Linked DNA regions of Homo sapiens: all the other regions are linked to region 1. Evidence: fine-mapped expression QTL. A gene starts in region 1. Each other region holds a variant in brackets. All regions are shown on one strand. Distances are between the middles of the regions.

Region 1 (8,100 bases):
GACCCTCCACCATCTCTCTATGTTTGCTCCTTTCCACCTGCCCTTCACTACACTGGACACAGGACTCTACAGTTTCCAAGACCTGTACCTGTTCCCTGTCCCACTTATCCCTTCACAGCAGACTACAGGGGGCAGAACAGTCTCCATCAGAGAGACAAGGGGCTGCTCAGAGCAGGGCAGCAGCCCGCCGGGGGTCAGCAGCCCACCGGGGGTCAGCAGCACCACGTGGCAAGTGTCCCCCGCATGCCCAGCACTTGCAAGCTCTCCCAACTCCCTTCTGTCCGCAGCTGTGGTGCACTCAGCAGACCCAGGGCCTCCAGCCTCCCCGGATGACCCCTCTCTCCCCTCGCTGCCACCTCACCTGCCACTGACGCGGCCCCAGCTCCCAGTTTCTTTTTTTTTTTTTTTTGACATGGAGTCTCACTCTGCTGCCCAGGTTGGAGTGCAGTGGCGTGATCTCAGCTCACTGCCACCTCCACCTCCCAGGTTCAAGCGATTCTCCTGCCTCAGCCTCCCTAGTAGCTGGGATTACAGGCATGCACCACCACACCCAGCTAATTTTTGTATTTTTAGTAGAGACGGGGTTTCACCATGTTGGCCAGGCTGGTCTTGAACTCTTGACCTCAGGTGATCTGCCCGCCTCAGCCTCCCAAAGTGTTGGGATTACAGGCGTGAGCCACCGCACCCGGCCCCAGCTCCCAGTTTCATGTGGGGAAGGCAGGTGGGTGGATGGGATGGCAACCATGACGTCCTGCGCAGAGCCTGGAACAGACACTGAGATTCCCTTTTATTTTTTTTTTTAATAAATTTAAGAACAGCTCTACCTTCTCTCCTCCCCCCAGAGCAACTAAAACCAACTAAAAGGGGCTATGGTCTGGGGGGCAGAAGGCGCTAGGAGTCGTAATCTTCTTCGTCCTCTTCATCAGGTGCTGAGGGGCCCGGGGGCGCTGGGGGCAAAGGCAGAGTAGAGGCGAAGGGCAGGAAGGGTGTCGGGGGGCTGCAGGGCAGAAGGCAGGAGAGAGTCAGGCCTGAGCCCCACCGTGCCCTCCACAGGGGCAGCTGCCAAGACCCTCCCTCCCCCATCTGACCCTCCCACCACCACCCTCCAGATCCATGCGGCCAAGGCCCAGGGCAGCTCACGCAGGGCAGGCCCAGGCCCCACCCACGGGCCCTGGCAGGGTGGAGCAGGATCTTTCGGGAGAACAGTCTCCTGCCTTCAAGCCCTCCTCAGTTATTCTCCTTCCACCCCACAAATCTGCCACAATCAACAAGACCAAGGGGCCAGGGAGAACAAGAGGGGTAAGTTGGCTCTGGGGAGTCTGCCAGCACCCTCCCATGCCTCTGGGCTGCTCACCTCTGAAAGTGGGCAGAGGGGTGGCTGGCCTGGGGTGGGGGTTGTGATGTCTCCTCTTCCCCATCAGTATCTGTGTCCTCAGATTCATCCTGTGAGCACCGCAGAGGTCAGAGTTGACAAGAAAAGACACGAACCCATCACTGGGAGTGGCAGGGACAGCAGTAGACCCTCATAGCCCCAATTTACAAATAAACCAGTGAGCAAACAGGTTGCAGAAAAGGATGAGAGCTGGCCTCCTGCCAGTTCAGCCTGGGGCGAGGCTGCCTGTCCCATCACCAAGGGCAGGGCGAAGGGCTGGGGCCTCACTCACCTCCTGCTCCGAGTCTGTCCCGGACAGCTTCTTGTCCTTGCTTTTCGTTCCCATCCCACCGTTCTTCCGGCCGCCGCTGCCTGGCTTCCGGCCCCTTTGGGAAGGTACAGTCCATCTGCCCGGAGTGCTCCCTACTCCTTGGCCACCCCCAAGCCCTGTGGCCTTGGCCTTCCCCACTGTATGCCAGGCCCTGGCCCCACCTGCGGGCGCCCTTGTCCCCATCCATGTGGTTGTCTTCCCCGTCCCCCTGCATGTCGGGAACAGATGCCACCAGGTCCTTCAAGAAGTCAAACTGCTGCTCCAGCTCGATGCACTGCTTCCTGGAAGAGGTGAGGAGGGGCTGGCACTCAAGAGGGGCCCAGACACCCAAACCCGCAGTGGGTGGCAGCAAGGGGCCCCAGATGTCAGGCTGGAGCCCGGGCCGATCTCCGCTCCCGGGCCTGCCCTGCTTTACTCAGGTGGCTCCCTCTGCCTGGAAGCCCAGCCTCTCCTCTGCCAGTCTGTGGCCTTGCTGGTGTCCCGGCTGCCGCCCACCTCCCTCGCCACCCAGGCTCTGCCTTCCTCAGTGTGTGAACTCCCCGCGCCAAACCCGCCGGCCCCTCCCGGCTCCTCGCCGCTCACAGGTGGGATGTGGTCATGGTCTTCGCGTTCCGCGACTGGGTCACCTGGCAGGCCTTCTTCAACAGCGACTCTAGGAAGAGCTCGAGCGCCCGGGCTGAGGAGCGTCAAGGAGAACTCCGGGGCAGGAGAGGGCGACCCGCTGCCTCCCTCCCCCACGCCCCTCGACCCGGTCCGCCCCCGGCAGGATACAGATGATGACAGGCACCGCCGCCGCCACCTTCCCAATCTCTTCGTCCGTCTGCATGATCTTCTTGATCCGCGCCTGCGGGTGGGGGAGCAGAGTTCAGACCCCGTCGCCACCGTCCCCTAAGGGGGTGCTGGGGGAGGAAGGGGCATCCCCGGAGAAAGGGGGCGGGGGACACGGACGCGGGGAGGGCATGGAGGGGGCGGGGCGTCCAGGCCCCCGAACACCGCGGCGCGCCCGCCTGCCCAGCGGGAACTGGGCCCAAGCCACCCGGGAGCCGGGCCCACTCCTGCCGGGCTCTGCCACGTGCTCACCGGCGGGAACCGCGCGTTGTACTTCTTCTTCTTGCTCGGCATCTCGGGGCCTCTCTCGCCGCGTCGGGTCCAGCGCCGCCGCCCGCAGCCTCCCGGCTCCCGGGCCTGCTCGCCGCCCGCCCGTCGCGGTTCCCCTGGGTCCTGGTGCCGCCCGCTCCGCCCCCGCCGTTTCCCGCGGAGTCCTAGCGCCGCCGGTTAAGACGCCGCTCGCAGGGCCCTAGTGCCCTCCTCTTGAAGCCTCCTGGCCGGTGCGCGTCCCTCCCCAGTCTGGACCGCCGCTCCCGCCCGCCCCCAAGGCCAGAAGAGCGAACGTTGGCCCCGCCCCCCGCGGCCCGCCCCTCCCGGGGTTCCCGCGATGGCCCCGCCCCCGAGTCAGCACCTCCCCGTCGGCCCCGCCCCTTCCCCTGCCGGCCCCGCCCCACAGCGCGGCCGCTGCGGCCGCTGAGGCCCGCGGCTCCGCCCTGTGGCTGCGCCTGTCTATAAAGTTGTTGTTGAGGTGGCGCGGCGCTAAGATGGCGGCGGCGGCGGCGGCGGCCGTGGCGGGGGTGGGGCGCGGTGGCGGTGGCGCGGAGCCACGGCAGGAGCGGAGCCGGGCCCGGGGCTGGGCCGGCGTCGAACGCAGCGAAGGCCGGAGGTGACTGCGGGCGGCGGGAGGGGCAGGGCAGGGCCGGGGCGGGAGCACAGCTCGGGCCCGTGGGCGTTAATGGCGGCGGGCGCGGCACGGCCGGAGCCTGGCTCTCCTGCAGGCTCTAACAAGCCCTGGTTCGAGTCTGGGAACCGCCCCATTGGCCTCGGAACGGCCTGTAACCTCTCTGGACTTCAGCGTCCTCGTCTGTAAGTGGGCCCGATAACGCCTGCCTGGGAGGCCTGGCCTTACAGAGCCGGCCTCGGGAGCTGCGCGAACGTGCGCTTCTTTGCGTTCCTCTATTAAATGCCAGCGCACCGGATACCTGCCAGGAAAAGGGGGCCTTGGCAGGGCCGGGAGGTGTAGCTGGGGCTGGTTGCTCCCACGCCTGGATTCACCCTTCGGCCCTGCCACGCACTGCAGGTGTGACCTTGGGCAAGTCCTTTTTCTCAGCCTCAGTTTCCTTTTCTGTAAGTCAAGGAGAATAGTAATAACTGCAGCAACCCTTCTGGAGCGCTGACTCCTCAGGCATCTAATTTTCATAGCAGATCTACGGGACAGGAACAGTTGTTATCCCATTGTAAAGATGAGGCAACTGAGGCGCATCGACAGTAACTCTTACTCAAGGCCACAGTTTAATCCAGTGCCTGGCATCTGTAGTTATTGTCTCAGACCCTGCCCTGACTCGGTTCCCTCACAGCAGGATGGAACCAGGTGAGGAGCTGGAAGAGGAGGGCTCTCCAGGTGGCCGTGAGGATGGCTTCACCGCCGAGCACCTGGCTGCAGAGGCCATGGCAGCTGACATGGACCCCTGGCTAGTGTTTGATGCCCGCACAACGCCTGCCACTGAGCTGGATGCCTGGCTGGCCAAGTACCCACCATCCCAAGTTACCCGCTATGGGGACCCCGGTTCACCCAACTCAGAGCCTGTGGGCTGGATTGCAGTGTATGGGCAGGGCTACAGCCCCAACTCCGGGGACGTGCAGGGCCTGCAGGCAGCCTGGGAAGCTCTGCAGACCAGTGGGCGGCCCATCACACCGGGTACCCTGCGCCAGCTCGCCATCACCCACCACGTGCTCTCGGGCAAGTGGCTTATGCATCTGGCACCGGGCTTCAAGCTGGACCACGCCTGGGCTGGCATTGCCCGGGCCGTGGTTGAAGGCCAGCTTCAGGTGGCCAAGGTGAGCCCACGTGCCAAGGAGGGTGGGCGCCAGGTCATCTGTGTTTACACGGACGACTTCACGGACCGCTTGGGTGTACTGGAGGCGGATTCAGCCATCCGTGCAGCGGGCATTAAGTGCCTGCTCACCTACAAGCCTGATGTCTACACCTACCTGGGCATCTACCGGGCCAATCGCTGGCACCTCTGCCCCACTCTCTATGAGAGCCGTTTCCAGCTTGGGGGTAGTGCCCGTGGCTCCCGAGTGCTTGACCGTGCCAACAACGTGGAACTGACCTAGGGGGGCCAAATTGGGGAGACTGCCCACTCCCCCCTCCATGCTGGGGTTGGATCCTCCTGTCTTCCTCCTTGTCCTATGAAGGCCACACCCCCCAGCTCTGGGGACTCCTAGGTCACTTGGGAACTACCTGCATCTTCAGTCCCCTTGAACTTCTGCCCTCTGTTCAGGGCTGACACAAGCCCCACAGGCTGGGGGGCTCCGGTTCCCTGAGGGATGAGCCTTCAGCCTCCCTTTGTAATGCTGCTCCTCTCCACTGCCCAGCACCATGAGTTGGGTGCAGACACCTAGAAGGAGAGACTTCTTGGAACGCTCATCCCCCGCTATACCTCCCCTTCCTCCTGCATCTCCCCTTCTTTCCTTCCCCCTCAGGAGAGAGAAAACTTAGTGCTTCCAGCCCTTCTTGGAGCCTTCATGGTCCAGGGGTAGGGGCCCCACTGGCCTGAGCATGCCATTTTGAGGGGAGGGTAGTTGTGCCTACTTATCCCCTGGCAGAGGGGATGCCAGGACCATGGACATGAGGCTTGCCCATCCCTGCCAACTTACACAGCCTGTACCACTGTCCCCCCTTCCTTGGCTACTTTGACATGTGCCTGCTCCTGGCATTTCAATAAAACCCGGCTTGGGTCTGTGTCTTGAGTGTTTTTTAAAATACTGTCTTGGTGGTTACCTGCTTTCGTTGCTAGGGAGGGGCAGGGCCAGGAGAGACTACCCCCTTGACCCGGCCAGGCCCCCATAGCTGCCCCTAGCAATAAGTTGTGCCTCACTGCTGAGGTTAGGCACTGTCTCTAAGAACCTCTGCAAAACCAGCCCCACTTCCCCTCCATCCGTAATCAGTTTCTCAGAGATTTCCCATAATTCCAGGGGTTGACCCCTCCAGGAACGTCTAAGGGGCCACTGCTAGCCCTCAGGGTGCATTTGTGCATATTAGAGAAAGGTACCAAGTCCAAGCAGTCCTAGGCCGGGGTACGCGGTTTGGGGAGCAGAGGATGGGATGGGCTGGATTTCAGCACCTTAGGCTAGACATCCTTGTGCAGTGAACAACCTGCACAACCCTAGGTAGTCTCTCTGGAAGCCCTGCCATTCATACTCTCCTCTCCTACCACCCTGACCATCATAGGGCCCACTAGACAGTTTGCAAAGCGCTTTCATATGCATTAAATTTAATTCTCCCAACCCCTTTGGGAGATGTTGGCCCCATTCTGTGGTCAAGGAAATTGAAGCCAAGAGGGGAAAGGAGTTTTCTCAGTGTCATGCGATGAGGTGGGCAGAGCTAGGACTTGCATCCCAGTCCCTTCCTCGGGCAATGAGGTCCCTGAGCCCACTGAGGAAAACAGGGAGCTTTTCATAACTCACAAAGCATGTTCACTTACGTGATCTCACTGGGCCGCCCCACTCTGCTGGGACTTGCTGTAGCCTTGGAGCCTGGCTCCTGCACCCCGCCACCTCTCCAGCCCCGTGCCTGGCCCTGGCCTTGATTGGGGGCCAGGGTGTCTGGCAGGGAGCCCCTTGGGACACAGCTCTCGTGCCGTGCCGGGACTGACTCAGCCTCCAGCAGTCTCACCGAATCGGAATTTAGAGCAGGGGAGCGGAGATGCCACCGGGCTGACTGGGTGGAAGTGGCTGAGTCATGAGATGCTGGCTCAGTGCTCTCTCCAGCTTCCTCCCCACCCTGAGCTTCCCCAGGGCTGAGTCCCCCTCTGCCCAGCCTTGGGAAGTCCCCAGAGCTGGGTGGTCTCCGAGTTGGAGCCTGGTGCTCTGCCTCCCTCGGGCTGCCAGGGCCTTGCACTCCACCAAAGTGGGCCAAGGTACCTCATGGGTCCCACAGAGATGCCCAAGTGGGGTCAACAGCACTGGCTTCTTCCATAGCTGAGTGTGTCACACACACAGCCCCTCTTCATCCCTGTGCCTTGCCCCAGCCCACAACTCACCGTCTCCCAAGCCACTTCCACCCTCCTCTTGTCCCCGCTCCGTTCTCCACAGCCAGGTCAACAGATCCCTCCTGCAGAGTGGCCATGTCCTGCCAAAAGCCCTTCCATGGCTCCCCACAGCCTGCAGGATGGAGTCTGCTCTCCTGCACTGGCCGTGACCTGGTTCCCATAGACTTCCCCGCTTCCCTCGGGCACCCCTTTCTGCCCATGCTCACCCAGCTGGAGCCATCTGTTACTTCCTTCACCCCCTGGTGCACAGCCCTGGGCCTCGGGCTGTTCCTTCTGCTCGAGCACCTGCCTTGCAGCCCTGATGGCCAGAGTGTGTGGTGACTTGTGTAATGGCTTGATGTCTGTCTCCTGCTGGCCCCTAAGCCCCATGCCCACACTGTGCTCTGTGAAGGCAGGAACAGTGGCTAGATCTCAGCCCTGTTCCCAGAGCCTACCACAGTGCTTGGCCAGAACAACGACTCCGTAAGTTATTACATGAATGAATGAGGTAATTGGCGACTCCAGCCCCTGCTGGACCCTTCTGCCTCATCCCATCTCCATTCCCTGCTTTGCACTCCTTGTCCAAGAACGTTGAGCTGCGTGTGACTTTCTTGTACACATGGTGGCCTTTCTCACTTTCACGCCTTTGCTGGTGCCGTAGCCTCTGCTTAGCTTACCCTCGCCCACTTCCCTGGCTGGCGCCACGTTGCAGACCCACTGGCTCAGGTGTAATTCTTCAGGATGCTTCCGGATCCTTCCTCACCCCAAGTGTTGCAGGCATGTCCCCTAGGCTCCCACAGCTCCCGCCTGCCTGCTGCTCTCATCTGTATGTAAGATCCCTTCAGACAGTGACAATGCTTTATCCTCCAGCATCCGGCATAGGGCCCAACCTAGTGCAGATGCCAAATTAACATTTTTTTTTTTTTGAGATGAGTCTCGCTTTATCACCCAGGCTGGAGTGCAGTGGCGCAATCTCGGCTCATTGCAAGCTCCGGCTCCCGGGTTCACTCCATTCTGTTGCCTCAGCCTCCCGAGCAGCTGGGACTACAAGGTGCCCGCCACCACGCCTGGCTAATTTTTTGGATGTTCAGTAGAGATGGGGTTTCACCGTGTTAGCCAGGATGGTCTCGATCTCCTGACCTCATGATCCTCCCGCCTCGGCCTCCCAAAGTGCTGGGATTACAGGCGTGAGCCACCGCGGCCGGCCTCTTTTTTGAGATAGGGTCTTGCTATGCTGCCCAGGCTGGAATGCGATGACATGATCATGGCTCACTGCAGCTTTGAACTCCTGGGCGCAAGCGATCCTACCACCTCAG
Region 2 (8,100 bases), 93 kb before region 1:
TGAGCTGCCACATCTGACAAGCTTGAGCAGAAGCAGGGCTGGATGTTGTCTCCTGGGTCCCCAGCTCCTGTCAAATGCCACCCCTCAGCTTCTCACTCCCAGGTGGGACCCAGGGTCTACTTCCCGTTTCCCCGTCTCTACCCCAATCTGGCCTCCAAAGGCCGACAGCAGGGCCTGGGAGCTGGGGCTGCTGCTTATTAGGCCCCAGCCTTGGGCAGGGGACCAGGCAGGCACAAGCAGGGTGTGAGGCCTTGTCAGAAAGGAAGGACCGTGGGATGCTCTCCGCAGCCACTGCAGTGCTGCCTGCCTGGGCCTGATGGTGCCTATACCTAGCACCCCCAAGGCCCATATCCCAAGTGTGGGTGTGTGCTTGTGCATCTGAGGAACCTCTGGGTGTGGCATGTGGGTCCTTGGGTTGTGTTTGAGTTTTGTGTGTACATCTCCAGGTTGTTTCTCTAGGGTGTGTTGCTTCTGTGCTCATGAGTTGCTAGGCTGTGTTTCTCTGGGTATGCATGTGATATCTGCCAGCATCTGAGTGTGTGCTCTGGGTGTCTGTGTGTGTATGTCTGGTGTGTTGTGCTTTGGGTGTGTGCGTGTGTATATGTATGGGGGGGTATGAATTGCAGCCACAAATTCAGATGTGCAAATGTTGCAATGCTGTTTTCTTCTTCTTTTTTTATTTTTAATTTTTTTGAGATGGAGTCTCGCTCTGTCTCCCAGACTGGAGTGCAGTGGCGCAATCTCGGCTCACTGCAACCTCTGCCTCCTGGATTCAAGCGATTCTCCTACCTCAGCTTCCTGAGTAGCTGAGATTACAGGCACCTGCCACCACACCCAGATAATTTTTGTATTCTTGGTTGAGATGGGATTTCACCATGTTGGCCAGGCTGGTTTTTTTTTTTTTTTTTTTTTTTTTGAGATGGAGTCTGGCTCTGGCGCCCAGGCTGGAGTGCAGTGGCGCCATCTCGGCTCACTGCAAGCTCCACCTCCCGGGTTCACGCCATTCTCCTGCCTCAGCCTCCCGAGTAGCTGGGACTACAGGCGCCCGCCACTACACCCAGCTAATTTTTTGTATTTTTAGTAGAGACGGGGTTTCACCGTGTTACCCAGGATGGTCTCGATCTGCTGACCTCGTGATCTGCCCGCCTCGGCCTCCCAAAGTGCTGGGATTACAGGCGTGAGTCACCGCGCCCGGCCACCAGGCTGGTCTTGAACCCCTGACCTCAGGTGATCCATCCACCTCAGCCTACCAAAGTGCTGGGATTACAGGTGTGAGGCCGGCTGCAATGCTGTTTTCTTTAAATGACATTACATTGAATCTGTCCCCTCACCCCTCCTGTGGGCGCTAGACAATCTCTGTCCCTCTGCGGCTCCTAGTCTAGCCCCTTTCAGGCGTCTTGCCCAGGGCAAGGCAAGAGAGGCGTCCTTGTGGCGTGGAGCCCACAGTGTGGACTGAGAGGCACTGTCCTAGCCTTCATGGTCTCTTGGCCTGCAGGGACTCTGCCATCGTTGGGCCACATGCAGGTGGAGGAATCTTTATAGGCTGGGAGCTCAGTGTCCTGGGTGAGGACACTGCCTGATTGAAGCCCCCCATGCCACCCATGAGCTCCTCCTGGGGCTGAGTGGGAGCACAGCACAGACTCCTCCTCAGAGTGCTCCCAGGCAGCCGGCCCTGTTCTTATCTCAGGCCATCGCCCCTCCTCTGTGAGTCTGCCGCCACCCCTGACCTCTGAGAATATTGGGAGTCTCTGGCTGTGTGTGGGGGCTCTAAGGTTTGTTCCTCTATGCCTGTGATGCTGGGGTGTTTGGGGGCTCCACATTTGGAGGCTCAGCCCTGCACCTTCAGCACTGTCTGGGCTGGGACAGCAGCAGCTCTGCTGCAGGTGGCAGGGTGACCTCTCAGCTTGGGCTGGGGAGCTGGGAGCTGCCAGAAGTGGGAGTGGGGGATGGGGGCAGAAGCGAAGCACTTGGAAGAAACCAATGCAAGAAGCAGCACTGGCCATTTATTGTGACAGATACGGCCCACGGACCTGAAGTGCCCTCCACCATGGCCCCAAACCCAATGGCCTTCGCCCTCGGGGACTTATCACATCTGCACACAGTTGTGCTTTAGGAGCTGAGAGGAGTTCTGCCAGGGAACCACAAGGACCTCAAAGTCACAGCGCAGCTTCTGTGGAGGGAATATGGGGGAGAAGGAGGGGTGAGCCCAGCCTCGACCTGTCTCCTCCCAACAGCCAGCCCTCTGCCTGCCAGGCTGCTCCAGGCCAAGAGAGGGACAATCACTGACCCAACGGATGTCAAGCCGCATGTCTGGGGCTAGACTCCAGATCTTGGTAGCCAACTTCCCCATTCCCGAGGGAAGCCCCAGCTTCCTTTCTGCACCCCATCTTGGCCCAGAGGCTGACTCATCCAGAAGGACGACAGGTTCAGCCAGACATCTAGACATCTACGTGTCCAGCCAAACCAGTTCAGGATGGACAACCTGAGTGCCTGAGGCTCTGGGGAGGGCTGGGGCTGGAGGAGCCCAGCTGTTACCTCCTGCTGCGCCCCTGCTGCCAGGGGGCAAGTGGTGAGGTCGACGTGGTCTCCAGTGACCCTGGTCTTGCGGCAGTCTGTGCTCCCCATCTCCATCGTCAGGAAGTACTTGATGCCGGCCACCAGCTGGGGGCATAGGGTAGGGGCAGGTCAGGGGTCTTGACCCTTGATCCTCACTTCTCACCTCTTGATATATTCTCCTGTTGCCCCCAGGCACTCAGGTGGGGAGAGAGGGAGAGGGGATGATTCAGACGGGGTGGGGGGGGGTGGGGGGGGGTGGGGGGGGGAGTTCTGGTGGGGATGGAGGGTGGAGAGGCCTGGAGGCTGAGCCCCACCAGCAGCCTTGGCAGACATCAGACATGCCCCATCTAGGGAGCTGCCCACTGTCCCCACCTGCCTTCCCTCCTCCCCGATCCACCCCATCAGGGCAGAGACTAGGACCAGGCAAGCCAGGAAGGCAGGTAGTGCAATACAGGGTTTAATTATGTCTTTCCTTGAAATTTAGATGGTTGTCCATCGTGGAGTTTTAGCATTAATTCGATTTTTAAAATATTGCATGAAAATATCCCGATTGCGCTTTTAGGCCCCCTTCATGCACGCTGGGGCAGCGCCTGTGGCCTCCCCCATCTGGGCCGGGTGTCCCCTCCCAGCACCCCGCCCGCCGCACCTGGCTCTGCGCCTTGATGATGTGCGTGTCTCGGAAGTAGTAGATGCTGTTGCTGCCCATGTTGTAGCTGGCCACGGCCGCCTGCGCCGCCTTCTGCACCTGCGGGTCGTCGGGCGACAGGTCCCGGAGTTCTCCGACCATGCGCTCCTGCGGCCGGGCCCGGGC[G/A]TCGCGTGGCAGCGCCAGGAGGCAGAATGCGACCAGGGCCAGGCCCAGCGCCAGCGGGAGGTTCGAACGCGCCATGGCCGTCAGTGCCGTCGGAGCCCTCAGAGCCGTGAGTGCCGAGCTTGCGGCCGCGCAGCTTTTACCCGCTGGGCCGCCCCGCCCGACGCCCGCGATGCGCCCCCGCGGCCTGGAGCTGGGGCGGGGCTCGAAGTTGCCGGGGTCCTGCGAGGTTCAGGGAGCCCAGGAGGCCGAGGGGGCGGCGCGCACCCGCGTGCCAAGACGCTTCCCTGCCCTCCAGGACACACCTGGCCCGGGGAGGGAGAGGACAGCGACAGTCCCCAGCAACAAGTGCCAGTACAGGGACGGTTCACGGGAGGGCTGTCCAGAATGAACTACCAACCGCAGCTCTTCGTGGGCTCTTACTGTTGCCACCATTTCCTAGCTGTGTAACCTCGGAGAAGTCACTTAACCACTCGCTGCCTCAGTTTCCTCTTCTGTACAATGGGTGTTGTGAGGATTCAGTGAGCTGAAACAGGTAAAGTTCTTAGAAGAGGTCTGGTGCTGGATAAACAGCAGGTGAGTAGGACACATTACTGCTCAGCGCTGCCTGACAACCTTCCTGGAGCGCGAGTGACTAATGTTTCTACCTGGCCAGGCACCTAGGCATGCTTGTAATTCCAGCACTTTGAGAGGCCAAGGTGGGAGGACCACTTGAGCCAAGGAGTTCAAGTCAGTGAATCGTGATCTCACCACTGCAGCATTCCAGCCTGGGCGACAGAGCTAGACGCTGACTCAAAAAAAAAAAAAAAAAAAAAAAAAAAAAAGAAGGCCGGGCATGAGGGCTCACACTTGTAATCCCAGCACTTTGGGAGGCCGAGGCAGGCAGATCACTTGAGGTCAGGAGTTCAAGACCAGCCTGGCCAACATGGTGAAACCCCGTCTCTACCAAAAATACAAAAATTAGCCAGGCGTGGTGGCACACACCTGAATTCCCAGCTACTCAGAAGGCTGAGGCAGGGGAATTGCTTGAACCTGGGAGGCAGAGGTTGCAGTGAGCCAAAATGGCACCACTGCGCTCTAGCCTGGGTGACAGAGAGAGACTCTGTCTCACAAAAAAAAAAAAGAAAAAAGAAAAAAAATAGTTTCCACTTTACAGAGAAGGGAAAATGGATTTGCCCAAAGACACCGGCAGGAAATAAATGGTGACACTGGCTTGTGTGTGCTGACAGTCTAAGTCAAATCTGTGGTCTTAAACCAGACTGAGCCCACAGGACACAAACTGCCCAGAAGGAGGGGGTGTCAGTCATGTCAGCTCTGCCATCTTACTGACGGCATGGCTTTGGGCAAGTCCCTCAACCTCCCACACAGAGCCTCCGTGCCCTCGTCTGAAAGACACCTTATCTCCTAAGTTTGTTCTGATATTGATGTTTCGAATCTGGCTGTCCCGTGGATACAGTGAGCATGTGCTGGAGGTACCAGCAAACAAGGCCCATGACTGTGTTTTTAAAGACTCCAATAATTGCCAGGTGTGGTGGCTCACGCCTGTAATCCCAGCACTTTGGGAGGCCGAGGTGGGCAGATCACTTGAGGCCAGGAGTTCGAGACCAGCCTGGCCAACATGGTGAAACCCCATCATAGCCCGCACGGACCTAGGGGGACTGAACAAAGCCGGGCAAACGTGGGAATAAAAGACAAGAGACAAAAGAGTATATTTGGAAGAAGGGGTCAGGGGGCACCTTGCCTCTAGTGGACAAGGGCCCTGAGCTTTACACAGCCCTCTGTATGTAGTAGGCAAAAGAGATAGCGAGAAAGGGGGAGGGTGATTGTCGGGTATGTCAGGTAATTGTCGGTCAGCACTTTGGTTCACAGCAGGCTTGTGAGACTGCATCCTTTGAACAATAGGTGCTAATTTTCTCAGTAGATAACTTCAGGGACCCCAGTGCCAAGGAGTAAGGCCCTCAGCAAACCTTTTGGTGGCAGGGCAGTGGGAGTTTGCCCACATCCTGCATTCGTGATAAACAGGTGGCTGTTTGATCATATAGCCTTCAGTGGAATGCTGAGTTGGTCACAATCCCTTTGGCCCTTTCGGCTCCCAACACCCCATCTCTACTAAAAATACAAAAATTAGCTGGGTGTGGTGGTGCACACCTGTAGTCTCAGCTACTTGGGAGGCTGAGGTGGGTGAATCACTTGAACCTGGGAGGCAGAGGTTGCAGTGAGCTGAGACGGCACCCACTGCACTCCAGCCTGGGTGACAGAGCAAGACTCTATCTCAAAAAAAAAAGACTCCAATAATTAATTGATTATTATTAATAGGTGGTGATCTATTAATCACACGGTAGCTCACACCTGTAATCCCAGGACTTTGGGAGTCGGAAGCAGGAGGATCACTTGAGGCCAGGAGTTTGAGACCAGCCTGGGCAACATAGTGAGCCGTCTCTACCAAAAAATCTAAAATAAATTAGCTGTGCATGGTGGTGCACGCCTGTGGTCCCAGCTACTCGGGAGGCTGAGGTGGGAGGATTACTAGAGTCTGGGAGGTCGAGGCTGCAGTGAGCAGTGATGGTGCCACTGCACTCCACCTGGGTGACAGAGCAAGACTCTGTCTCAAAAAAAAAAAGGAACAGATGAAAAGCAGTGTTGAAGTAGTCAACGCAAGAAAAGTCTGGATTTTGTTGAATTTTTTTTTTTTTTTGTGACAGCGCTCTGTCAGCCAGGCTAGAGTGCAGTGGCGCTATCATAGCTCACTATAACTCGACTTCCTGGCTTCAAGCTATCCTCCCATCTCAGCCTCCCAAGTAGCTGGGACCACAGGCGCATGCCCCCATGCCTGGTTAATTTTTTTCCACACCTGGCTAATTCTTATATTTTTTTGTAGAGATGGGGTCTCACAGTAGTGCCAGGTGGGTCTCGAATGCCTGGCCTCAAGAGATCACGAGATCCTCCCACCTCAGCTTCCCAAAATGCTGGGATTACAGGCAGGCCTTGGAATTATTTGTCTGCATTTTAGAGTTCAGTGTAGTTTGTATTTGTAATTCCATGTTGCTGGGGGGCGGGGCTTATTGTCCCTGGGGCACTAAGATCTTGCAGTGCTTAGAGCCTCCAGGGGCTTCACTGGGGCTTGGAAGAGGTGCTAGGTCACAGTACGTAAAGAGCAGCTGGCAACTGTCACTGTGATGGATATTGTATGTAGGCATCCAGCGTGTCACCCTCCCTTCCTGATTCTGGGCCTTAGAATCCCAGGACCACAAAAGGAAGTGATTTCCCACACAGAGACCTAGACCACAGCGGTCACTCACTGCCCAGGGCAGCTGCCAGCCTGCTACCCACCTCACTTCCTCAGCCCAGCTGTGGAAAACCAACTCTGCCATCTTCCTGGGATTCCAAGGAACCGTCACAAGTTCCTGGCGGCCTCAGGTGTCTGGCTTAAAGGGACAGACTCCAGTTTGTGGAAGTGCTGGCCGAGCTTGAGTTGATCAGGAGGATGACGCCTGGCCAGGACTCTGAGCTGAAAGCCTGGGAGGGGTAGAGGAAGAGTACCAGGATCGTGCCACAGGGGCGAGGTGGGAGAGGCAGCTCCCCTGGGCCTGCTGTGTCATCACTTGGAGCTTAGCCATGGCCACAGGTACCTCCAACAGCTCTCTCAAAAACTAGCCAAGGCCTGTCTGCCACTCACCAAGGGCACCCACTCCACCTGCCTCTGCTTTGTGCTGATGCAAAGGACTTTTTTTGCAGTACAACCTAGCAATTTCTGAGCACTTTTCACCCACTGATTCTCACAAGCACCCTGAGGGAGTACACATTATCCTCACTTTGCAGATGAAGAAGTTAATCAGAGAGGTCGGGACACTTGTCTAAGGTCACACAGCTAGAAGTGGTATCTTGGTAAGAAAAGGTGGGGAGGATTAACAATGGTAAGAACTCTTGCTGTGTGCCAGGCCTTGCGCCAGGGATTCAATATATGTTCTTTCATTCCCATAGCAGCTCTGCACAGACAATGACTATTATCTCTTCCTACAAGGAGGAAATGGGAGATCAAAGGGGAAAGGTTAGTGGTGGGTCCCGGTGCATGAGTCCTGGGCTGCTCCACAGGGGTTTGAGGTCTGCTGTGCATGGTGTAGGGGTTGTTTCTTGCAGATGGGGTGTCCCTGAGCAGACTTTCCCAGGGCCTGACTCCATCCCGTCTGGACCACTCTGGCTTCCAGGAGGTTTGCGCCAAGCGTGAGCTTGAGGTCGGTCAAATGTACTGGCCACAGGGCAGAGCCTCCAGTTTTGCAGTGGCCCAGACATCCCACCCCAGGTTGTCCACAGCACCCCTCTCTTGCCCCTGGCCTGATGGGTGGAGATGACCAGGGCAGGTTCTTGACATCTCCTTCCCTCTGGGATCAGGCTCTCCAAGGCTTCGATGCTTCCCCCAGAACCCTCTTCCTTGAACCTTCAGTTGGGCAGAGGATATTGCCCTCCCCCCAGGGCTCTGTAGCCCCATATCCTGGAAAGGAGATCTTTCAGCAAGGAAACCTGTAATCCAACAGGGATTAAAGCTCCCCTCTGGGGAGGAGCGCTCCTAAGCGCTGCTGATTCACTGGTTGAATCTTCACAACCCTGTTATCAGCTGGCAGAGGAGGCTGTAGCTCAGGGGAGTGAAGCAACTTGCTCCAGATCGCATGGGGAGCAAAGCCCCAGAATCGGGCCTGGCTGGCTCTTCAAGGCTGCCACCAGTCAAGGTTGGGAGTGAC
Region 3 (8,100 bases), 910 kb after region 1:
ACTGCACAGGAACAACGAAGTTCACTGTGGCATGGTTTGGAACAGCAAGAAATTGGAAAAAACCTAAGTGCCTCCAGTGAGGGCAGGTTACCTGAGCCGGGGTAGGTGCATGTGAATTCATGAAGCCCTTAAAACAGTGAAGTGGGCCAGGCGCAGTGGCTCATGTCTAATCCCAGCACTTTGGAAGGCAGAGGTGAGTGGATTGCTTGAGCCCAGGAGTTCAAGACCAGCCTGGCCAACTTAGGGAGACTCCCATCTCTATAAAAAATACAAAAATTAGCCAGACATGCTCACTTCAACCCAGGAGGCGAAGGTTGCAGTGAGCTGAAATTGTGCCACTGCACTCCAGCCTGGGCGAAATTGTCTGTCTCAAAAAAAAAAAAAAAAATTAGGTGTAGTGGTGCACATCGGTAGTTCCAGCTACCTAGGAGGCCAAGGTGGGAACCAGGGAGGATAAGGCTGCAGTGAGCCGTGATCATGCCACTGCACTCTAGCTTTCATGACAGAGTTAGACCGTCTCAAAGAAACAGAAAACAGTGAGGTGGAGCTGTAAGATACCAGTGTGGAAAGATGTCCGCGCCATATTAAATGAAAAACAAAAACAAAAATTCAGTCCTCTTTTAGTTTTAAAAATAATATTAACTGGAAATATGCCCACTTAGCAATGTTTTTTAATCTATGAGATGCATTCCATTAAGGAAGTGGATTGTAAAATTAGTGTCACAAATAGGTTGAACTGTATGAAATTGCCCATATTTGACAGTTTTGATACACAGATGTATTTCAAATGGTTCAACCTAGTAGCATTAACAAAAATGAAATAGAATGAACAGAACTGAAAACATTACTACCTTTACCCACGTAGTAAAGCTAAGTAGCGTTTGGTGAAACATTTGTTTTAGATATTTATACAGATATGTGTACTTCTCACTGTGAATCACAGTCACAAAAGTTTGAAAATCAGGGCAATGAAGTTTGGGAGAACATAAAATTATTACCTTGGGTGTGTCTATATTTTCTTTTTTTCTTTGAGACAGAGTCTGGCTCTGTCACCCAGGATGGAGTGCAGTGGCACAATCCTGGCTCACTGCAACCTCTGCCTCCCAGGTTCAAGCTATTCTCCTGCCTCAGCCTCCTGAGTAGCTGGGATTACAGGCATGAGCCACCATGCGCGGCTAATTTTTATATTTTCAGTAAAGACAGGGTTTCACCATGTTGGCCAGCTGGTCACAAACTCCTGGCCTCAAGAGATTTGCCTTCCTCAGCCTCCCAAAGGGCTGGGATTACAGGTGTGAGCCACCGCACCCAGCCTCGGATTGTTTTATTTCCTACCAGTAGCATTGAAAGAACTTGTTCAAATGTCTGGCTTAAAGTCTTGCCTGTCCATGCTGTTGTTCCCAGGGGCCACATGGTAGAATTTCAGTGAATATAAATTAAAAAAATAAAAATAAACAACATCCAAGCTCTGTGAAAAAGGGGGAGTTCAGGAAGTAACTATGTTTAGCTTTTTTTTTTTTTTTTTTGAGACAGAGTCTTGCTCTGTCGCCCAGGCTGGGGTGCAGTGGCGCAATCTCAGCTCACTGCAAGCTCCGCCTCCCGGGTTCACACCATTCTCCTGCCTCAGCCTCCCGAGTAGCTGGGACTAAAGATGCCCGCCACTATGCCTGGCTAAGTTTTTGTATTTTTAGTAGAGACGGGGTTTCACCGCGTTAGCCAGGATGGTCTCGATCTCCTGACCTCGTGATCCGCCAGCCTTGGACTCCCAAAGTGCTGGGATTACAGGCGTGAGCCACCGCGCCCGGCCAACTATGTTTAACTTTTTAAACATATTTTAGAGACAGGGTCTCACTCTGTCACCCAGGCTGGAGTGCAGTGGCACAATCATGGCTCACTGCAGCCTCAAGCAGTCCTCCCACGTCAGTCTCCTGAGTAGCTGGGACTACAGGTGCATGCCATCAAGCCCGGCTAATTTTTTAAATTTTTTGTAGAGACGAGGGTCTCGCTGTGTTACCCGGGCTGGTCTTGAACTCCTGTGCTTAGGTGATCCTCTCACCTCAGACTTCCAAAGTGCTGGGATTACAGGCATGAGCCACCCCACTTGGCCTGTGTTTAACTTTTGAAGAACTGACTGTAGCTAGAAATTGGGTGGAGAGGCATTTAAAGACAAGTAAGGGGCCTCATTACGAGCTGTGTTTTCATTTGCCTCATGGAAAGGAGGAGAGCTCTTTTTTTTTCTTTTTTTTTTTTTTGAGACGAAGTTTTGCTCTTGTTGCCCAGGTTGGAGTGCAATGGCAAAATCTCGGCTCACTGCAACCTCCATCTCCCAGGTTCAAGCGATTCTCCTGCCTCAGCCTCCCAAGTAACTGGGATTACAGGTGTGCACCACCACACCTGGCTAATTGTGTATTTTTAGTAGAGACGGGGTTTCACCATGTTTGTCAGGCTGGTCTCAAACTCCTGACCTCAAGTCATCCACCTCGGCCTCCCAAAGTGCTGAGATTACAGGCAAGAGCCAATGCACCTGGCTTTTTTTCTTTCTTTTTTTTTTACTTTCAAGCAGAGGAGCAGAAGAGCACTCTTAAATAAAATCTTTGGGAAATACCTTTGGAAGAAAACTAGGAAAGAAGATGTATAGAGCTGTAGTTATATATAATTGTGAATATGAATATATATATATATTTTTTTTTCACAAGAAAGAATCGTGAAATTAAAATACCCAAATCGTGACATCTGTGAAACCTGCTTTTGAAGGGGAAACTTCTTAGGGCCGAGTAAGTGGCTTGTAACTTGAGGATAGAGATCTACAGCCTTTTAACAAGGCATGTTTACCCAACGTCTAGAAAGAAAAATTTGGCATTATTATTATTTTTAAGACAGGGTCTCACATTATTATTATTATTATTATTATTATTATTATTATTTTTGAGACAGGTTCTCACTCTATCACCCAGGCTGAAGTGAAGTGGCACAATCACGGCTCACTGCAGCCTTGATTTCCCTGGGCTCAGGTGATCCTCCCATCTCAGCCATCTGAGTAGCTGGGACTAAAGTTCTGTGCCACCACACGCAGCTAATTTTTGTATTTTTTGTAGAGACTGGGTTTTGCCGTGTTGCCCAGACTGATCTCAAACTCTGGGCCCCAAGCAATCCTCCCATCTTGACCTCCCAAAGTACTGGGATTACAGGCATGACCCACTGTGCCGGGCCTGAAAATTTGGCATTATAGTTTTAATTTTAAAAAGTAAATCATTTTAATCAGCCATTATATTTCATGGATTACCTTTATAATAATAAGAAAAGTAACAGAATTCTATATTCTGGAACCAGAAGGAAAAAAGGCCAGGGGAGAAGACTCTGCTTAAATTAGAACTGCTGGCCATTAAGCATTAGCAAGGAGTATACCCAAGTATTTTATTTATTTATTTATTTATTTATTTATTTATTTATCTAAATATTTATTTTTAAGTTTGCTCTAGACACACAGTTTCTGTGTGTGTGTGTGTGTGTGTGTTTTTTTTTTTTTT[TTTG/G]AGACAGGGTCTCGTTCTGTCATCTAGGCTGAAGTGCAGTGGCATGATCACAGCTCACTGCAGCCTCGTCCTCCCAGGCTCACATGATCCTCCCACCTCACCATCCCAAGTAGCTGGGACCACAGGCACATGCCACCATGCCCAGCTATTTTTTTTTATTTTTAATTTTTTTTTTCTTAAATAATGATGAGGCTGGGCACGGTGGCTCACGCCTGTAATCCCAGTGCTTTGGGAGGCCGAGCTGGGTGGATCACTTGAGGCCAAGAGTTTGAGACCAGCCTGGCCAACATGGCAAAACCTCATCTCTACTAAAAATACAAAAAATTGGCCGGGTGTGGTCACGCACACCTGTAGTCCCAGCTACTTGGGAGGCTGAGGCACGAGAATCACTTGAACCCTGGGGGTGGTGGGCGGCAGCGGAGGTTGCAGTGAGCCGAGATTGCGCCACTGCACTCCAGCCTGTATGAGACAGAATGAGACTGTCTCAAAAGAAAATTAAGAAAAAGAAGGAGCAAGTTATGATTGTGTTCATGTGTGAGAAGCAGCACTTATATCTGGTGTAAATTGCTCCAGATTTCTTACACTTATAAAGGAGTCTCACGAAGAGATGGGAAATTGGGTTCTCTGGATTCTTAGTTTTCCTGTTTAACCCTTCACTGTCATTTGTTGCCCTCTGTGGACTTGCCTTATTTTTCTGCAGTGTTGCAGCAAGTGAAGTATTCTTCATGCAGCTGCTCATGAAACCTTCACCGGGAGGCGGCAGATATCTGTGTTAGAGGAGTCTCTTTCCCTTATAGATGATCTAAGTTAAATTACTACCAAGTCTAGAGTGCACCAGCTTCAGACATGAGGCCCAAACGATGTCATTGGGAGTCAGACTCTTCCTCTATCTGCTGTCCTCCGGGCTGGCTACATTCTCAGGCAGAACCCGCTCATGGGAGTAGGACGGCCACCAGAAACACCAGCTTAGTATCACCCCAGGGGGGCACATCCCCAGACCCTGTCACTTTCCCAGTAACTCCAACAAAACTCCCAGGCCTGTCCTTCCTTGGTCTGGCTTGGGTCATGTGCCTATTCCTGACATCAATCACTGTGACCAGGTGAGATTGGCAAGGCCAGGACCCCAGGCCCATGCTGGAGTGCAGGGTTTGGGTCACCTTGTTGCCCAGGCTAACCTCAAAATCCTAGGTTTAAGTGATCTCCCCACCTTGGCCTCCCAAAGCATTGGGATTACAGGCGTGAGCCACCATGTCTGGCCTATTTAATTCTTTTAACCTACATTGTTTATATTAGATTGTTTATAATAAAGTTACAGTTTTAATGAGAAGACAGAAAACCTGTTTTCCCTCTCTGATAAGACAATCTAGGATGCCAGTCTTATTTTTTGGACCACATGCCTGTGACAGAGGCACCAGCAAGCACGTGCTGGCAGCTTACCCAAGTGTAGGTTTTGTCCTACTAATTAATAAGCAAAGAACTGGAAGCACAGAGATGGCAACTGCATACAGACCATAGTTCTGCCCTCCCACTGCTAATCTTCCGGCAGGTTTTTTTTTTTTTTCTAGACAGTCTCACTCTGTCACCCAGGCTGGAGTGCAGTGGCGCAATCTTGGCTCACCGCAACCTCCACCTACCGGGTTCAAGCGATTCTCCTGCCTCAGCCTCCCGAGTAGCTGGGATTACAGGCATGCACCACCATGCCTGGCTAATTTTTGTATTTTTAGAAGAGATAGGGTTTCACCATGTTGGCCAGGCTGGTCTTGAACTCCTGGGTTCAAGTGATCCACCCAGCTCGGCCTCCCAAAGTGCTGGGATTACAGGCGTGAGCTGCTGTGCTCAGCCTATGTAGGTTTTACATATCCAAAGGCAGCCAGGTCCTCAGTGCTGGTCAGTGATGATTCAGTGGGTGTGTACATCCTGCATGCCACTGCTGCATGCCTCATAAGACAAGTCAGAGTGTTCAAGCATCTGCATTACAGGTCTTAGCCCAGCTGCCTGTGTGGGAGGCAGCAGAGGCATCCTCTCCAACTCCAGATGACAAAAGGAGGTGTTATTCACCACGCAAAGGCACATGACATCTGCAAGCTTTTCCAGAACCTTAGGAGGTAGAAAGGACTTGAAAATCTGAGATCTTCCAACAGCCATGTGCTCGTACACCTCACCTGTTGCCTGTGGCCCCTCAGGAGCAAAGCTGTGCTAGATGCTTCTTGCCTCCATGGGGCCAGGCCTGGTGAATGAACGCAGGAGCGCAGCTGCTGCCCCTGGTTGCCCGTGTCCTGCTGTGCCCTCACTCCGGAACCTAAGAGGCAGGTACCACTCTTCTCTCCGCATGACAGACCCCCCCACCCACTCACCTGGATCGCTGCAGCAGCCTCCTGACCGGCTTCCCTGCTCCCCTGCTCCAAGGCACAGGGACCCTTTTTTATTTAATTAATTAATTATTTATTTATTGAGACAGAGTCTTACTCTGTCACCCAGGCTGGAGTGCAGTGACGTGATCTTGGCTCACTGCAACCTCCGCCTCTTGGGTTCAAATGATTCTTGTGCCGCAGCTTCCAGAGTAGCTGGGACTACAGGCATGAGCCACCATGTCTGGCTAATTTTTGTATTTTTAGTAGAGATGGGGTTTCATCATGTTGGCCAGGCTGGTCTCGAATTCCTGACCTCAGGTGATCCACCTACCTCGGCCTCCCAAAGTGCTGGGATTACAGGCATGAGCCACTGCGCCTGGCCAACCTTTTTATTTTTTATTTTTATTTGTTATCATTATTATTATTATTTTGAGATGGAATCTCACTCTGTCACCTAGGCTGGAGTGCAGTGGCGTGATCTCGACTCACTGCAACCTCTGCCTTCTGGGTTCAAGCGATTCTTCTGCCTCAGCCTCCCGAGTAGCTGGGATTACAGGCATCCACCACCATACCCAGCTAATTTTTGTGTTTTTAGTAGAGACAGGGTTTCGCCATGTTGGCCAGGCTGGTCTCGAACTCCTGACCTCTGGTGATCTGCTCACATCTGCCTCCCAAAGTGCTGGGATTACAGGTGTGAGCTACCATGCCCAGCCTATTTATTTATTTTGAGACAGAGTCTTGCTCAGTGGTGCAATCTCGGCTCACTGCAGCCACTACCTCCTGGGTTCAAGTGATCCTCCCACCTCAGCCTTCCAAGCATGCACCACTACGTCCGGCTAATTTTTGTATTTTTTACAGAGGTGGGTTTTCATCATGTTGGCCAGGCTGGTCTCGAACTCCTGACCTCAAGTGATCCTTCTGCCTCGGCCTCCCAAAGTGCTGGGATTACAGGTGTGAGCCACCAAGCCCGACCAGGGACCCTTTTAACCTATGCATCAGATCATGTTCTCCTCTGCTCAGAGCTCTCTGGTGCTCTCTGTATCTTTCAGAGTAAAAGCCCAAGGTTCTCACTGGCCTATGAGCCCCTGCATGAATGGCCCGTGGCCTCCACCCCAATCTCTTGCTCCCTGGACCCTGCCAGTCCCAGGAGTCCACTACACCACTCTGCCCCCCGACCCCAGCCGGTACCTCACTGTCACGGCTCTCTCGTCTTTAATTCTTTGCTCAAAAGTCCAATGTCAGAAACAATTTTTTTTTGTTCAAATATCTCAACGAGGCTCAGTCTGACCCCGCTATTTACATGTGAAATCCCCTACCCCACACTCCCCATGGCCCTTACCTAGCTCTCTTTTCCCCTTGGTACCTGTGGACTCCCACCAGACTAGATAATTCACTTAATGTAATTATCGTCTCCCTGCTCCTCCCTAGGATGGAAATTTCACAAGGGCAGGATTTGGATCTTTTTTTAAAAAACAGATGTCTCCCAGCACCTAGAGCAGGGCCTGCCACATAAGAGATGCTCAGGAAATAGTTGCTGCGTGATAGAAATAAGGATAGAGGTTTGTGAATTGCTTTCTAGCTGCTCACACGGACAGGAAGCAGCAGGGCTTCACCAGCCTTGTTCTTACCATCAGGTTTCTCAGCCCCCCAAACTGAGGCAGACCCGGCTCCCGCTCTCTGAGATCCCCACAGATTCCAACTCCCACACCAGGCCCAAATCAAAAAAGGCATCTTGGCTGGGCACGGTGGCTCATGCCTGTAATCCCAGCACTTTGGGAAGCTGAGGCAGGTGGATTACCTGAGGTCAGGAGTTTGAGACCACCCTGACCAACATGGCGAAACCCCATCTCTACTAAAAATACAAAAACTAGCTGGGTGTGGTGCAGGGCATGGTGCTGGGCACCTGTAATCCTAGCTACTCGGGAGGCTGAGGCAGAAGAATTGCTTGAACTCGGGAGACAGGGGTTACAGTGAGCTGAGATTGCGCCACTGCACTCCAGCCAGGGCAACAGAGCGAGACTCTGTCTCAAAAAAAAAAGGGCATCTCATAGGTACTGCTTCCTGACGGGTGGTGGGAAGGGAAGACTGAGCCCTGTAGTGGAAGGCAGATGGCAGTGCTGGGGGAGGCACCCAGGTCTCTGTCTGCAGCACCAGCCTCGGTTCATTGCTAGTCCCTTGTTTAGAAAAAGGCCTCCCAAGAGGCACAGGCAGGCCCCGGCCTC
Region 4 (8,100 bases), 67 kb before region 1:
CACTTTGTTATTTAACCCTTGCTAATCCACAATGAGTTGCCAAGTACCAGAATCCTTTGTTACTAACCAGACCAGGCTGTTCATTCTTGAACAGCATTGGGCATCACTTTGTTTTAATAATTCTTGTATGAGAAGAGCACTCTTTTCCTTCTGATAGCAATGTGGCTCCAACTACTGGCTGATGTGAGACGGTACCGGCAGTTCCTGGCTGTGTATTCTGCCAACATTTAGAGAAGCCACCAGCAGAGGTCACCCTAAGCACGTAAAACCAGCAAGTCAGCACCTTGCCTTGGGCTACAGAACCCGAAAGCATCTAACCTAGTTACAGTCTCATAAGGGAACTGCATTCTTGGTCCAATCAAAGGGTCCACATGCCCCAACAGCAGTTAGGATGCTGGTAGACCACTGCGAACACAAGTTCCACTCCCCCAGAGATGGATTCACTCACCAAGGCATGATCAGAAGTGGCCTTCCTCCCCAGCAGCATTTACAAGCTGGAGTACAGTGCTTGGAGGGTGGTGGGGAACTGCCCTGGTTTTTTTGTTTTTTGGGGGACCCAGTTTCACTTTTCTTGCCCAGGCTGGAGTGCACTGGCGCGATCTTGGCTCACCGCAACCTCCGCCTACTGGATTCAAGCGATTCTCCTGCCTCAGCCTCCCAAGTAGCTGGGATTACAGGCACGCACCACCACGCCTGGCTAATTTTGTATTTTTAGTAGAGATGGGGTTTCTCCATGTTGGTCAGGCTGGTCTTGAACTCCCGACCTCAGGCGATCTGCCCGCCTTGGCCTCCCAAAGTTTTGGGATTACAGGCGTGAACCACCGCGCCTGGCCGCCCTGGTCTTTCAGTTAGAAAGCACCCAAATTGAGGTGCAGGAGGACTCACATGGAGGTGTCTGTGGCTGTGTCCCCCAGAAACCCTGCTCTGGACAAGGATGAGGTACCCCTGTAGTTAATGTCTGAGGATTCAGGGAGCCTTGGACCTGGTAGATGGGCAGCAAGGAGGGGCTGGTAAGACCTAAGAACTGCAGCCTCTGGAAGGGTCGTCTCCCCAGGGCCCCTCAGCACATGTATTCAGCTCCCCTTCTAGTGACTGCTGAAGCTTTCAGGCCTTTGGGGGTTTTGCCTCCCTGCGTTCTTCTCTGAAGGCTCCAAGTGCCTTCTTTCATGTGGGTCTCCCATCCGCTTTGTGTCTGCCATAATTTAGCTTTCGACAATGGAGTTCTGTCTTATCGATCCTACTCACGATCTATGGCCACATCTTTCCTTCCTCGCGCCCTCCCTTCCTTCCTTGCTTCGTGATCTCGGCTCACTGGAACCTCTGGCTCCTGGGTTCAAGAGATTCTCCTGCCCCAGCCTCCTGAGTAGCCGGGATTACAGGCACCTGCCACCACGCCTGCCTAATTTTTTGTATTTTTAGTAGAGACGGGGTTTCTCCATGTTGGTCAGGCTGGTCTTGAACTCCTGACCTCAGGTGATCCACCCGCCTCAGCCTCCCAAAGTGCTGGGATTACAGGCGTGAGACACTGCGCCCGGCCCACACATTCCTTTTTTGGGGGGGTGGGCCGCAGGAGACCTGCCCATCTGTCCTGCTTCTTGCTTCTCCCTTTCACTTTGTCCAGGGCTGACAAATCAGCCGTTTCTGAGGAGCCCTCCTGTCTGCCTCCTTCCCCAGGTGGGGTGTGCATTGGCACAGAAGGGCTGTTTTGCTTCTCTCACTGCCCCTGAACAGGTGCCTGAGGAGGGAAAGGCCTGGGACCCAAGGCAGAGCAGGTGGCGTGCTGTGTCTGTTGGGCAGGGGCGAGGTGGGGAGGACACTGGCAAGGCTCCTTAAGGCCGGGGGGTACGGGGCTCAGGGACTCGGAGAATCAGCATGCAATGACAGCATCGATGTGTCCGGGGCTCAGGGAGAGGGAAGTGGGACCCAGCCTGATCTGAGTGGAGACCCTGAGTGGGGCCAACTCCGTCTTCCCAGTGTGTTTGGGCTTTGGAGACATGCCCAAGGCAGGACAGCTTTGATTCTCACCACAGCCCTGGGGGCCACGACGGCTGTCTCCTCCCTACACCATGGTGAAGACATTCAGACCAACAGAATATAGGAGTTTATCACCAGCAGACAGAAGGAACTTCTAGAAAACAAACTTCAGAAACAATGAGAAGATTTGGCTATCAGTATTTTATTAATATCATAAAATATGTTAAGAGCGCTTACCATCTTTTTCTCTGATCTGGAGTAGTTTAAATAGCATTTGAATGATCTATTATCTAAAGGTAAAGCCTTTAGATAATAACCTTTTTTTTTTTTTTTTGACGGAGTCTCACTCTGTCACCCAGGCTGGAATACAATGGCACCATCTCAGTTCACTGTAGCCTCCGCCTCCCAGGCCCCAAGCAATTCTCCTGCCTCAGCCTCCTGAGTAACTAGGATTACAGGTACCTGCCACCATTCCCGGCTAATTTTTGTATTTTTAGTAGAGACAGGGTTTCGCCATGTTGGCCAGGCTGGTCTTGAACTCCTGACCTCAGGTGATCCGCCCACCTTGGCCTCCAAAAGTGCTGGGATTAAAGGTGTGAGCCATGGTGCCGGTCAATAAACTTTTGAAGCTTTAAAAACATCTAGGCTTGGTGCCTTTTTTGATGCGTCAAAAAATAACCGCAGCAAAGATTTACGTTGTTTTTAGTTTTGGAAGCTCTTTATTAGAAGGCACCGTAGTGGGAAGACAGCAAGTTACAGGCCTGGGAAATGAAGAACCTTACAGAAGAGAGGAAGGAGAAGGCAAAACCAGTGAGCTAGTTCCTTATGCCATATGTGAGTCACCATAGGAAGAGTTTATGAACTTTCACTCATTCTCATGCTGGCCTTTTTTTTTTTTTTTTTTTTCTTTTGGAGACGGAGTCTCGCTCTGTCGCCCAGGCTGGAGTGCAGTGGCGCGATCTCGGCTCACTGCAAGCTCCACCTCCCGGGTTCACGGCATTCTCCTGCCTCAGCCTCCCGAGTAGCTGGGACTACAGGCACCCGCCACCACACCCGGCTAATTTTTTGTAGTTTTAGTAGGGATGGGTTTTCACTGTGTTAGCCAGGATGGTCTCGATGTCCTGACCTCGGGATCCGCCCGCCTCAGCCTCCCAAAGTGCTGGGATTACAGGCGTGAGACATTGCGCCCAGCCATGCTGGCCATTTTTTATATTTATGTCATTATTTAAAACGATGCTTTTTTTTTTGACAGAGCCTCACTCAGTCACCCAGGCTGGAGTGCAATGGCACCATCTCGGCTCACTGCAACCTCCACCTCCCAGGTTAAAGTGATTCTTGTGCCTCAGCCTCCTGAGTAGCTGGGACTATTGGCACACACCACCATGCCCAGGTAATTTTTAAAATTTTTTTGTAGAGACAGGGTCTTGCTTTGTTACCCAGACTGCTCTAGAACTCCTGGCTTCAAGCAATCCTCCCACCTTGGCCTCCAAAAGTGTTGGAATTACAGGCATGAGTGACCGCACCCAGCCTTCTATACTGCTTCTAATAGAATAAAAGAATTTTTCCAGATTT[T/C]GTATTAAATGGAAGCAAACAGTATGTATAATTTCATGTCCATGAGGTTCATCCATGTTACTCATTCGGTTATATGAATGTCTACCCTTTGTTGATTTTTTTTTTAGAGACAGAGTCTCACTCTGTCACCCAGGCTGGGGTGCAGTGGCCATTCACAAGTGTGAGGATAGCTCACTGCAGCCTCAAATTCCCAGGCTCAAGCAATCCTTTGCCTCAGCCTCCCGGGTAGCTGGGACTACAGATACAGGCATGAGCCACCACACCCAGCTAAATTTAAAAAATATTTTTAGAGGTGGGTCTCACTATGTCACCAGGCTGGTCTTGAACTCCTGGCCTCAAGGGATCCTTAGCCTCCCCAGTAGCTGGGATTACAGGCACTAAGAACCATGCCCGGCTATTTATTCATTCTTCTGTTAATGGACATTTGGGTTGTTTCCAGTTTGGGGCTGTTATAAATAGTGCTGTTAAGAACATTCTTGTTCATGTCTTTAGCTGAACATATGTATGCTTTTCTGTTGCTAAGCCAACATGTTCTTGTTCTCTCTTTTTAAACAAAGTTCTATAATGGAAATTTTCAAACATACTCAAAAGTAGATAGAATGGAATAATGAATCCCATTGTACCTGTTACACAGCTTCAGTTTTCTTTTCTTTGTATTTTTTGGTTTTTTTCTGAGACAGGGTCTTGCTCTGTCGTCCAGCCTGGAGTGCAATGCATGATCCTAGAACACTGCAGTCTCCAACTCCTCCTGCCTCAACCTCCTGAGTAGCTGGGACTGCAGGTGCATGCCACCATGCCTGGCTGATTTTTAAATTTTTTGTAGAGATGGGGATCTCGCAATGTTGCCCAGGCTGGTCTCCAGCTCCTAGCCTCAAGCAATCCTCCTGCCTCGGCCTCCCAAAGTGCTGTGATTACATGCACGAGTCACCATGCCCAGCCAATATCATCATTATTATTACTAACAATAAGACTATTAAATGTGTTTAAGATTTCATTATGTTAATTTAAAAATTTTTAAATAGATATCCTACTAGGGATGTGAGGTCAAAATATTCTATCTTAAAATCTTTTGAAATAATTCTGGTTGGGTGTGGTGGCTCATGGCCAGAACTGCAATGGGTGCAGTTGCCTGAACTGAATCCTTTTGCTAAAACCTACTATCGGCTGGGTGTGGCTAGTACTGCAATCCCAGCACTTCGGGAAGCTGAGGCAGGAGAATTGCTTGAGCCCAGGAATTTTGAGACCAGCCTGGGCAACATAGCAAGACCCTGTCTTTGCAAAAAAATTAGCCAGACATGATAGCATGCAGCTGTGGTCCCAGCTACTCAGGAAGCTGACGTGGGTGGATCACTTGAGCCAGGAGGTCAAGGCTGCAGCTAGCCATGTTTGTACCACTGTACTCCAGCCTGGGCGACACAGTGAGACCTTGTCTTAAAAAAAGTAAAAAGGATATTACTAGGCTGGTGACCTGCTAGTGGTGGCCGCAGATGGAGAGGCTTCCCTTGGCAATGATTTAGTAGGGTGGGATGGGAGTGGGGCTGGGCCCAGAGATGCTGACCCCCTTTGTACCATTGAGTGAAGCCAGTAAACCTGCCCCACCCCAGGCATACCCCCTTCTATGAGGTACACCCAGCCCCCTACTCACCCTGACCAGCCTGGGGAGTGAGAGTGCCCACTGCTCATCAAGGTGGAAGGCAGAACTCATCAGCTTGTAGTCAATGCAGTACCTGCAACAAAGCTGCTCCAATCCAGAATGCACCCGAGGGAGAAAGATGTCTGAAGTCCTCATAGCTGTCTCATCTGCAAAGTGACTTCCCAGCGGGTTACCTGCCCTCGGCCCTACTGCAAAGGAATCATCACTGTGGGGTCCAGAACCTCAGGTGGGTGTCAGGGCCATCCGTGGGCACTGCAGGAATACTCTTCCATGGACAGAGTTCACATGTCACCCTCACTGTTGGAAAGTGTCATCTATGGGTGCAGATATCCGTGGAAGTGACATATCTGCTACCTGCTTTGGCTCAGGGAAGCATGCGGGGCGACATGGAGGCCTCCATGCAGCCTGGTGTCTGTCATCTTGCTGGCTGTGCTGTGTTTGGGCCAGGCCCTCTTTCGGGCCTGCCTGAAGGTCAGCCACCCTGTCCAGAGCTTCTCCTGAGCCCCATGAGGACTCACAGACTGTGCCTGGTCCCTTCAAGGGAGCTGGGAGCCAGCAGCTGCCATCCTTTCTGGGTAGAGGTGGGAAGGAGCTAGGCTGTGCTCGGGTCTGGGGTAGGCAGAGCCTCTGCTGGGCAGCCGCTCCCTCAAGGCCGCTGTGTTTACAGAAAAGCAAACCAGGTGTTCTTCCTAAAACTGGGTCCCGTAAGAAGACAGTTCTGGCCTCGTCCTTCCCATACACTCCCTGAGAGCCATTCCTGTCCCTTCCACGTTCTATGGCACGACGGGTGGGCACCCCTGGGCCTGCCTCGGCTCCCTCAGGCTCTTCTCCCTACCTTTCATGTCCTGGTGTGGGGGTGGTGACAGCCGTGGCTCTGCAGACTACAGGATCTGGCCCGTATGTGACCACTTAACAGAGTATTTGTCCCTAGTCCTGTATTTCCCTTAATTCCTCCCTCCAGTCCCCTAGCTCCCAACTGTATTTAACTGCGCTGGGGCTGCGTAGGGTTGCTCTGTCCTGGGGGGTGGCCAGGGACTCATCCAGTGCTTGTAAATAAATAAGGCTACGACTCAAAGAAAAAAAAATAGACATTAGGACAGTTGGGGTCTAAAATGAGGTGGAAGTGACGCATCAACGGTACTTTTCCCAATGTCCTAGGTGGCGTTAGTTTATGTGGGAGAACGCCCTTGTTTGCAGGAAACACACACTTAGTTGGGGCGGTACGGAATCCCCTTGACCACCGATTGTCAAATGGTTCAAGGGGAAACACTTTGTATCGCTTGCAACTTTTCCTATGGGTTCTGTAGCTTTTTTTTTTTTTTTTTAATCTTAGTAGCTATCATTTTTCTCCTATGGGTTCTAAACAGTATCACGGTTTCGAAAAATCTTTTTAGCAACCTCTGCATTGCCAGGGTCCTCAGCCCCACCCTGCTCTCCACTGTCCACGTGGCTGCTGGTGGGTCTCTCTGGGAACTCCAGCCAATTAATCCTGCTCCTCCTGGGAACTTACTGCTGAATCCCCACTTTCCTGGGACCAGCCCGCCCTTCCCACCCATGGCACTGAAACGCAGAGACCCGACACCAGCAAAGCCAGGTCCTCACCCTGGTTGTCCCCTTCAGTCCACTGCCCAATGTACACCTGGGCTGAGCCCTTCTTGAGGATGCCAAGGGACAATGACAGGACCAGCTGGGGAAGGCAGGGCAGGGAACTAAAGCCCCGGGGCAATCGTGGGTTTGGCACTGAGGGGCGCCAGGGACCACTCTGTAGGATGAATGGGGGCGAATCTGCCCACCAGGCTGTGCTCCTGAGGCCTGCGTCCACTGCCCAGAAGGGCACCTTTTCCCAGGTCCACAGGGAGCCCATGCTGGCAGGGCCTGCCTGCACCCTCCAGAGCATCTCTGAATTGTGGAGGAAGAGGCAGGGCCCTGCCTGGGGCTGGGTGGGGCAGGTTTGGGGCCACAGGCAGAGGCTTGGAGGAGCCTGGAGGACCTGGGCAGGGGGTGCGCACAGGAGAGGGCAGGCCCCGAGAGCAAGAGGGGGACCCCATCCTGGTCTTGCTCAGAGCCAAGGCCACACAGCACTGGACTGCTGGGCTGTGGGCTGGGGTTGGCATCACCACACCCGGAAGGCCCATCACGAGGAGAGATGGGCCCTGGGAGGGCAGGAGCTGGGCCTCGTCCCATCCTTCACACCTGGCTGTGCCCTTGCGCAGTGGCTGCTTGCTCTTAGGGCCCATGCCCCATGGGCCCAGGCAGCCTGTCCGGCTTTGCTCTGGGTTCTTAGGCAGCGCTCGCAGATGCTCGGTACATTTTTGTTGAAGCTGTGGAAGGATCAGTCCTCAACTATGCAGTAGGGTGGCCCTAGAAGTCTTGAGATCACGCCCCCCACCCTCAACACGCACATTTTGTAGGTAAGACAGAGACTTGGTGACCTGCCTCAGGTCAGGCAGCAGTGAAGGGAAACATAGAGGGCAAACATAAGCACCCTGTCCTCCCTGAGTGCCACCCACCTGGCTGAGGCCCTGGTTGAGGGCTCACTGACCCTCAGGGCAGCTTTTGAGCCATCGCTGCCCCTCAGGTACCTGAGGGCAGGGGAAGCACCGTTGGTGTCCGGCTACCGAGCAGCAGAGGTGGGAAGCCGCCTTGGGTTCTGTCTGCTCTGGGGGCTCAGGCCTCCAGGGATTTGGTAGTCCCCAACCCCTCCCAGCCCTGGGCACATGGGCAGGACACAGCTGGGGAGCAGAGCAGAGTACACCAGGGCAGAGAAGGGAAGTCTCTGGGCTAGGACCAAGAGCCAGAGATGCAGAGAGGAAGCAAGATGGCGCGAACGAGGAGGCCCCTGGTTCACCACGTAGTCTGCCCAGTTACTAGAGCCAGAAAGTTAGTCGGCTGCAGAGCTG

Which allele goes with the higher level. Positions count from the first base shown, and alleles are read on the strand shown. Sizes are in standard deviations (SD) of each study's normalised expression. Not every link is listed here.
For the expression in esophagus mucosa of the gene that starts at base 3,265 in region 1, allele G in region 2 goes with a higher level than allele A (small effect, 0.25 SD a copy in GTEx).
As copies of TTTG replace G in region 3, the expression in fetal neocortex of the gene that starts at base 3,265 in region 1 goes down (large effect, 1.5 SD a copy in Walker 2019).

The links. PIP is the estimated chance that this variant, and not a neighbour inherited with it, causes the effect.
Region 2: its variant is fine-mapped to the expression of C11orf68 in esophagus mucosa (GTEx, PIP above 0.99).
Region 3: its variant is fine-mapped to the expression of C11orf68 in fetal neocortex (Walker 2019, PIP 0.95).
Region 4: its variant is fine-mapped to the expression of C11orf68 in whole blood (TOPMed, PIP above 0.99). The same link has a PIP of 0.9 or more in breast, esophagus muscle, fibroblasts, lung and tibial nerve.

The regions. Positions count from the first base shown.
Region 1 is chr11:65,914,227-65,922,326 of GRCh38, reverse strand. It overlaps C11orf68 (chromosome 11 open reading frame 68), which reads left to right and starts at 3,265. Exons shown (of 2, transcript NM_001135635.2): 1 at 3,265-3,417; 2 at 4,109-5,517. The coding sequence starts at 3,296. The coding sequence ends at 4,868. DRAP1 (DR1 associated protein 1) reads right to left here and starts at 2,901. Exons shown (of 7, transcript NM_006442.4): 1 at 2,784-2,901; 2 at 2,475-2,547; 3 at 2,286-2,379; 4 at 1,865-1,984; 5 at 1,665-1,758; 6 at 1,355-1,443; 7 at 764-997. The coding sequence starts at 2,825. The coding sequence ends at 892. RefSeq lists enhancers at 2,308-3,228, 3,229-4,148, 5,708-6,267, 6,420-6,564, 6,268-6,827 and 1 more, a silencer at 2,442-3,511 and a cis regulatory region at 6,486-6,497.
Region 2 is chr11:66,007,387-66,015,486 of GRCh38, reverse strand. CST6 (cystatin E/M) reads right to left here and starts at 3,479. Exons shown (of 3, transcript NM_001323.4): 1 at 3,203-3,479; 2 at 2,536-2,661; 3 at 1,982-2,170. The coding sequence starts at 3,442. The coding sequence ends at 2,087. RefSeq lists enhancers at 1,422-1,997, 6,383-7,177 and a silencer at 7,835-8,100. The variant G/A (reference allele first, on the strand shown) is at 3,368.
Region 3 is chr11:65,004,402-65,012,501 of GRCh38, reverse strand. No RefSeq gene overlaps it. Among named protein-coding and RNA genes, the nearest start is that of ARL2, 5.7 kb to the left of the region's middle. RefSeq lists an enhancer at 4,863-6,062. The variant TTTG/G (reference allele first, on the strand shown) is at 3,525.
Region 4 is chr11:65,981,280-65,989,379 of GRCh38, reverse strand. It overlaps the pseudogene LOC100420020. Among named protein-coding and RNA genes, the nearest start is that of EIF1AD, 17 kb to the left of the region's middle. RefSeq lists an enhancer at 1-18. The variant T/C (reference allele first, on the strand shown) is at 3,547.